Linked DNA regions of Homo sapiens. The protein of the gene in region 2 interacts with the protein of the main gene of each other region in a pairwise test. Each region holds a gene or a part of one and is shown on either strand. Other genes may lie near its edges.

What was found.
Region 1: the proteins of CLCN4 (region 2) and ABHD5 interact in binary tests that used the Homo sapiens proteins (3 or more experiments, as listed by UniProt).

What each region holds. Positions count from the first base shown.
Region 1 is NC_000003.12:43,714,938-43,718,693, forward strand, and holds part of ABHD5 (1-acylglycerol-3-phosphate O-acyltransferase ABHD5), read left to right. Parts: intron 1-9; coding exon 10-121; intron 122-2,733; coding exon 2,734-2,920; intron 2,921-3,505; coding exon 3,506-3,595; 3' UTR 3,596-3,756. UniProt on the Homo sapiens protein: Coenzyme A-dependent lysophosphatidic acid acyltransferase that catalyzes the transfer of an acyl group on a lysophosphatidic acid.
Region 2 is NC_000023.11:10,208,833-10,212,574, reverse strand, and holds part of CLCN4 (H(+)/Cl(-) exchange transporter 4), read right to left. Parts: intron 109-3,742; coding exon 1-108. UniProt on the Homo sapiens protein: Strongly outwardly rectifying, electrogenic H(+)/Cl(-)exchanger which mediates the exchange of chloride ions against protons.

The DNA.
Region 1 (3,756 bases), on a different chromosome or scaffold from region 2:
GTTAAATAGGTTTAAGTCTAGTGCAGCGTTTAAGGCCTGATTTCAAACGAAAGTATTCTTCAATGTTCGAAGACGATACTGTGACAGAATACATCTACCACTGTAATGTGCAGACTCCAAGGTGAGGGTTAGGATTCTCAATTCACTCTGTGTGTGTGTGTGTGTGTGTGTGTGTGTGTGTGTTTGTGTGTGTTTTAGACTATTTTTTTTAAAACTATTTATTTATTTATTTATTCATTCAATACGGGGTTTCGCTCTTGTCACCCAGGCTGGAGGGCAATGGTGCGATCTTGGCTCACCACAACCTCCGCGTCCTGGGTTCAAGCAATTCTCCTGCTTCAGCCTCCTGAGTAGCTGGGATTACAGGCATGTGCCACCACGCCCGGCTAATTATTTTGTATTTTTAGTAGAGACGGGGTTTCTCCATGTTGGTCAGGCTGGTCTTGAACTTCTGACCCCAGGTCATCTGCCCGCCTCTGCCTCCCAAAATGTTGGGATTACAGGTGTGAGCCACCGTGCCCGGCCTTTGTTTAAAATATATCAGTGGTCCAGAAGATTTGTATCAGTAGTTAAATGACTGAATTTAAAAGGACAAGTGTCTAATACATTTTATTTTACTCATCTATTCTTAGAGTACCCACTGTATAAAACATTGTGCTGAGTTCTGATGGGGGATTAAGAAGTAACATGTTCACTCTTCCCTCAAAGTTCTCATGAACATGTTGAGAAAGTCTTGGTCTTGGGCATCTCCAAGAGATGGTTTGAGTTGAGAGTTGAAGAATTTCACATAAAGAAGTATTTCCCAAACTGAGTATGAATGTTTCAAAAAAAGAAAAAAGGGTGCTGGATTAAACAAAAGTAAATGATTGTCTATACTATGAATCCTCTTAGAACCTTTACTATACCGAAGGGTATTGAATCTCCCAAGTGAATGGGAGATGCTATGTGTATTTTTCAAGTTCATTTGATGATTGTACTCCTGAACAACTCTAAAGATCTGTAGGTCAGCATTAGAAATGCAGCTGCAGAGGGTGAGGAGTAAGTGAGGGATTCTGCATGTATTTTGACAGTGATTAGAAGGAGAGAGAGAGAATGGGGCATAGTAGCAGAGGGAGCAAGAGGGCCAAATGTATGTTTTAAAAATATGACTTATGGATGTTGGGTGAAAAGTACCAGTGGAGAAAACAGAGCCTGAAGATAGTGGGGGGCTAGGAGGAGGCCGAATGATAAGGCCCTAGAGTTTCTAGGAAGAGCATCAAGAATAGAGTGCAAAGATGAGAGCTGCAGTTCTCATGCTATGTTGTGTACTGGAATTATTGGGGGTGCTTGTTGAAATGTGACTCCTGAGGTTTGTTTCTAAGACTAATATTAGCATTTCTGGGCTGCATCTCTAACAAATACTCTGGTGATTCTGTATAGGTGAACTATGGAGCACACTTTAAGACAGAGAAGTGGTATCTCATCCTTTCTAAGACTGAGGTTTGGATGAAAGGCTAAGAGGCGAGATGCAGAGACAGCCTCCCTCTCTTTTATTTCCTCCCTCACTTTTGGCAGAAAATATGTACACCTACTTTATTAAAAAGATTGAGGCCATGGTAGCTATTTATAGGTAGCTGTAGCCTCAGTCTTTTTAATAAAGTAGGTTAGAGGTTCTCTGCCAAGAGTGAGGGAGGCTAGAGGTTCAAGGTCTTCAAGAGATTGAGGTTTTGTGAATTGCTAGGCAGTCAGGTTTGGTGGATTAGGTCTACACACTTCCAACAGTTTTTTTTAGGGGTCTTCCCCGGGAACATCATTCATTTTCCTGCATGGCGTAAGTTTTACTCTTCACGTACTCTTATTTCATGATTACATGTGTTCGTGTAGTCCTAGTTTGTTACTTTGATTGTAGTGAGACTTGAATTCTTCATAAAAGGCAAGTTAGAATGATGTCTGGTTTTGTAAGAATAGCAGAAGGGACCAGGCGTGGTACTCACGCCTGTAATCCCAGCACTTTGGGAGGCCGAGGCGGGCAGATCACAAGGTCAGGAGTTTGAGACCAGCCTGACCAACATGGTGAAACCCCGTCTCTACTGAAAATACAAAAATTAGCTGGGCATGGTGGTGCGTGCCTGTAATCCCAGCTACTCAGGAGGCTGAGGCAGGAGAATTGCTTGAACCCGGGAGGCAGAGGCTGCAGTGAGCTGAGACTGTGCGTGCAGCTGCACTCCAGCCTAGGCAACAGAGCTAGACTCCATCTCAAAAAAAACAAAAAAAACAAAAAAAAAAAATGAATAGCAGAAGTGACAGCAAGATAGACCTATCCTGAGAGCTTGCAAGAATATATTGTCTGAGTTTCTTCTTAACTTGGTAATGGTTTTAGCATTGCAGGTGAAACGCTGGTGCCATGAACCTGGGGATAAGCTACCTTCTACATCAGTTTAAATAAGGACAAAAAAACATATTTTTAACTATCTCCACAATAAATAATTTAATGATAGAAAATTAGGGTTGTACATTTTGGTTTACAAGAAAACTTTTTTAAAAATCAGCTGGAGTATACAACAGCCTTGCTTATCTAACAGTGATCTGTGAGATTTGTTCCTTACACTGTCTCATAAATTATTTTCTATTTAAGCTGAGGTTTTTCTTAGGTGCTGGAAAAGCTAAATATGAATGTGTTTTGATAGAAGTGACAGTGCAATGCATACTCATTCCCAAAAATCATACATCGTGATTTTCTCCTTGCCGTTAAAGTGGTGAGACAGCTTTCAAGAATATGACTATTCCTTATGGATGGGCAAAAAGGCCAATGCTCCAGCGAATTGGTAAAATGCACCCTGACATTCCAGTTTCAGTGATCTTTGGCGCCCGATCCTGCATAGATGGCAATTCTGGCACCAGCATCCAGTCCTTACGACCACATTCATATGTGAAGACAATAGTAAGTGTGTGGCTTGATTTGGGTTTTTAGGTATAGGTGAGGTCCGTTTTATTATCTCCCTTAAAAGAGGTTTTAGGTCATCCTCGTGTTGCAGGTCATCTGAGCCATACCTGCAGCCTCAGTCGGGGACGTGATACCACCTGTGATGGGTGCAGGGTTTGGCCTGCACACATCTTCATGTCCAAACCGTGAACTACCTTTCTGAATGACTTTTCCTGTCCCTAGAGCCACAGCATTAGGAGAGATGGACAGAGGGATTGGTCCAGTAGCACTTCAAGTAATTCCCACCTCACAAGGCAGCACACTCTCACTTTTTTCAGTTTCTCTGTTGGCACTTTTATTAGTGGTCAATTTAGTGTTTTTTGCATATTAAAATTTTATTGAGATTCAGTAGATTTTTCTATTCTCAGATCCTTTTAATGGATATACTTAATAGTTACTATAGATTATTGTTATTTTTTAATCACGTGTTTTATTTAAATACAGTGGCTCTCACTTTTATTACTAAGTGTCTTTGCTTATATATCATTCTGTTTTATTAAATGCTTTTACTCACTAACTGTCTGAATGCTTTTCCTTATCCAGGCTATTCTTGGGGCAGGACATTATGTATATGCAGATCAACCAGAAGAATTCAACCAGAAAGTAAAGGAGATCTGCGACACTGTGGACTGAACACACTGAAGCTCTGATGGGAAAACCTGGTGACTGATATAGTTGTTCAGCAATAATTCATAGTCTGTGATGAAGAGTAGTGAATACAACACACAACCAGGCAGCCTTCTTGACTATACTTTGCACATGTTTTCTTTAGGAATTCACTCACACATTTAAAC
Region 2 (3,742 bases):
GATGATCCAGTCATGGTGATGGTAGGCCAGCTGCTCCACGCCAATTCCCACCATCCTGCCCGCTATCGCGCCCACAGCCATGCTGGGGATGAAGAGGCCCGACGGGATCTTGAGGAGACACAGAGAAAAGCAACATGAGGGAAAAAGACCAAGTCCCCGCTTCACGACCCCCAAGAAACACATTCCCCCTCGACGGGCTTGCATTTAGCTTCAGTCTTCAGAGGAGGTGCAACTCTGCAAAATAGGTCAGCTGGGGAAAGGTGGGACAAATAATTTGACCTGCCTAGTCAGTCATATCTACTGCAACTTAGAGAGGACGCAATTTTATACTTTGATTCCCTCTCCTTCAAAAGCTGGCTGGGTTTGCCTGCTGTGGATTAAAGAATGATAAGCCCCACTGCAAATAACATTCAAAGTGAGCATCTGTCAGTTGAGACACCACTTTCTCTCGCCCCTTGCCATGTCATTCAGAATGGCTTTTAAAATTAAATGTCAAGCCACAGCATGAAAATGGAAAAGAAGGGCCTGCGACTGCTCCCAGGTAAAATAAAGAAGCTAAGTCCATCATTGCAGCCACCCTGGATCTTCCAGAAAGCACTTCAATGGCTCCCTGCCCTCTCTAGTAGGTGGTAGCTGAATACCTGTCAGAGAGAGACGAGGGAGGCAATTCCCTCTTCCTAATGAAGTACATTTTCTAATAAGTATTCTGAATATTTTCAAGCCAGGATAGGGGCAGCAAAGAAATAGAATGTAAACTAAGAGATCTTGGTACCAGCGTGTTCTCTACCCTGCTGGATGAAGATACATTTTAGTTTATCTAATGACCACACATGTACTATAGAACAAGCCTGACTCCCTGTGTTCGCTGAAATGACACGTGACCGCTGACCATGGGCAGCAGCTGCAATGATGCCAGCCAGCCCCAGGTGGTTACCCATCTGAGGATGGAAGCAGAACTTTAACCTAATTCAAGTGAAGTTTGGATCCTTGGGTGTGATTTCTAGAGTCAGAATACTCCTTAGGAAATCATTCCTTTCTGAGCTTCCCCTTATTCTACATCATTTATATCCCTGTAACATCAAAGGAGACTTTTCTCAGCAAGCATCATAAAATGTTACCAGCATCTTCCTGAGACATGAAAACAAATCCCTTTGCTAGGAGATGACAGATCAGAGACAGCCAGCTGTTTAATAAGGCCTACTCATCCTTGTTCTTAAGGCCCAAATTCAGGTTTGTATTTGACCACTATGACACACTCAAGTAAACAACTTCTTAGAATTTTTTTCTTTTTTTTTTTTTTTTTTTTTTTGAGACGGAATCTCGCTCTGTCGCCCAGGCCCGTGTGCAGTGGCGTGATCTCAGCTCACTGCAGCCTCTGCCTCCTGCGTTCAAGTGATTCTTATGCCTCAGCCTCCCGAGTAGCTGGGACCACAGGCGTGTGTCACCACGCCCAGCTAATTTTTGTATTTTTAGAAGAAATGGGGTTTCACTATATTAGCCAGGCTGGTCTTGAACTCCTGACCTCAAGTGATCCACCCACCTTGGCCTCCCAAAGTGCTTGGATTACAGGCATGAGCCACCATGCCCGACCATTAAATTTAAAAAAAAAAAAAAAAAAGACAATTCAGGCTGGGTGTGATGGCTCACGCCTGTAATTCTAACGCTTTGGGAGGCCAAGGCAGGCGGATCACTTGAGCCCAGGAGTTCCAGACCAGCCTGGTCAACATGGCAAGACCCCATCTCTACAAAAAATACAAAAATCAGCTGGGCATGGTGGCACGTGTCTGTAGTCCCAGTGGGCTGAGGCAGGAGGATCACTTGAGCCCAGAAGGTCGAGGCTGCAGTGACCCATGATTGTGCCACTGCACTCCAGCCTGGACAACAGAGTGAGACCCTGTCTCCAAAAAAAAAAAAAAAAAAAAAAGACAATTCAGGCAGGGCACAATGGCGCATGTGTGTAATCCTAGCACTTTGGGAGGCCAAAGCAGGAGGATCACTGGAGCTCAGGGGTTTAAGACCAGCCTGGGAAACATAGGGAGCTTGGTCTCTATTTTATATTTTTAATAAAAATAAATAAAATTAAAAGACAATTCATAGAAATGCCACACAGAAAGCAATAGTAATGGAACACAAAAGGGGGCTCTGGGAGGTGGATAATGTTCTGCTTCTGGTCCTGGGTGCTGGTTACACAGGTGTGTGTGTGTGTTTTATGAAACTCCATCAAGCTGTACACTTCTCTATATGAACGATATACTCTAATAAAAGTTTCTTTAAGTAAGTAATGATAGCATTATTCATAATAGCCAAAAGGTGGAAACAACACAAATGTCCATCAAAGGATGAGTGGATAAACAAAATGTGGGATCTCCATAGAATGGAATACTATTCAGCCATAAAAATGAAGTAGTGACACATGCTACAATGTGAATGAACCTTGAAAACATTGCACTAAACGAAAAAAGCCAGTCACCAAAGGCCACATATTATATGATATCATTTATATGAAGTGTCCAAAATAGGCGAATCTAGAGACAGATTAGTGGTTGCCGGGGCTGCAGGAGGGAAAAATGGGGAATGACTGTTAATGGAGATGGGATTTCCGTTTGGGGGATGAAAATGTTCTAAAGCTAAATACAGGTGTTAATTGCACAATATTGTGAATGTATGTAATGCCACTGAACTGTATACTTTAAAATGATCATTTATGTTTTATGGGTTTTACCTCATTTCAAAAAAAAAAAAAAAGCTATAATAACAAAATCCCAGGTTCCATAAAAGAAAGTTCTTTAGGAGGGGCTTTTAAAGTATTTTAACATAATGATTTTAACAAATGATTTTAACACAATGAAAGAGGAAACCAGCTGTCTCTTCTCTGGCTTTAGGAACAAGAGTAATGAAGGCATGTGCTGTTGGGTGTGGTGTGGTGGCTCATGCCTATGATCCCAGCACTTTGGGAGGCTGAGGCAGGAGGATCACTGGAGCCTGGGAGTTTGGGACCAGCCAGGGCAACACAGCAAGAGCCTCATCTGTACAAAAAATTTTTTTAAATCACCAAGTGTGGTGGTTCACGCCTATGATCCCAGCTACTTGGGAGGCTGAGATGGGAGGATCATTTGAGCCCAGGAGGTTGAGGCTGCAGTGAGCTGTGATCATGCCACTGTATTCCAGCCTGGGAACAAGACGAAAGGAAGGGAAGGGGGAAAGGGGAAAGGGGGAAGAGGAAAGGGAAAAGGGAAAAGGGAAGGGAAGGGGAGGGAAGAGAAGGGAAGGAAGGGAAGGAAGGGAGGGAGGGAGGGAGGGAGGGAGGAGGAAAAGAAAGCATGTGCTGTCATCCACAGCTCTGTTCTTCAAAGAGGATGTGTGCAAAGAGCCCCTGTCATGCCCAGCCCTACCCAGACGGGGGACACACTCACTCTGTGCTCCCGTCATACCAGCGTGGTGCTCATCACAATGTCAGAACTCCAGGTCTGCATCTCTTTCTCCCAGAGCTGTGTGCTCTGCAAGGGCAGCTTTCTGTTTGGGTTCTGTATCCCTCAGACTTAGCACGATGCCTAAGATACAGCTGATACTCAATGCATGTTTAATGAGCCAAACTGAGCCAAACCTGGGCTTTTTCCACCACCTGGCATCACCTGGCCAGCGGCAGGAAACCTGTGGTCACCACCACCTGTTCTGGGAATGTGTGAAGTGGGTTTGATGCCTAGCTCTGTCTCCCATAAGCTGTGGGTCTGATCAAGCCACT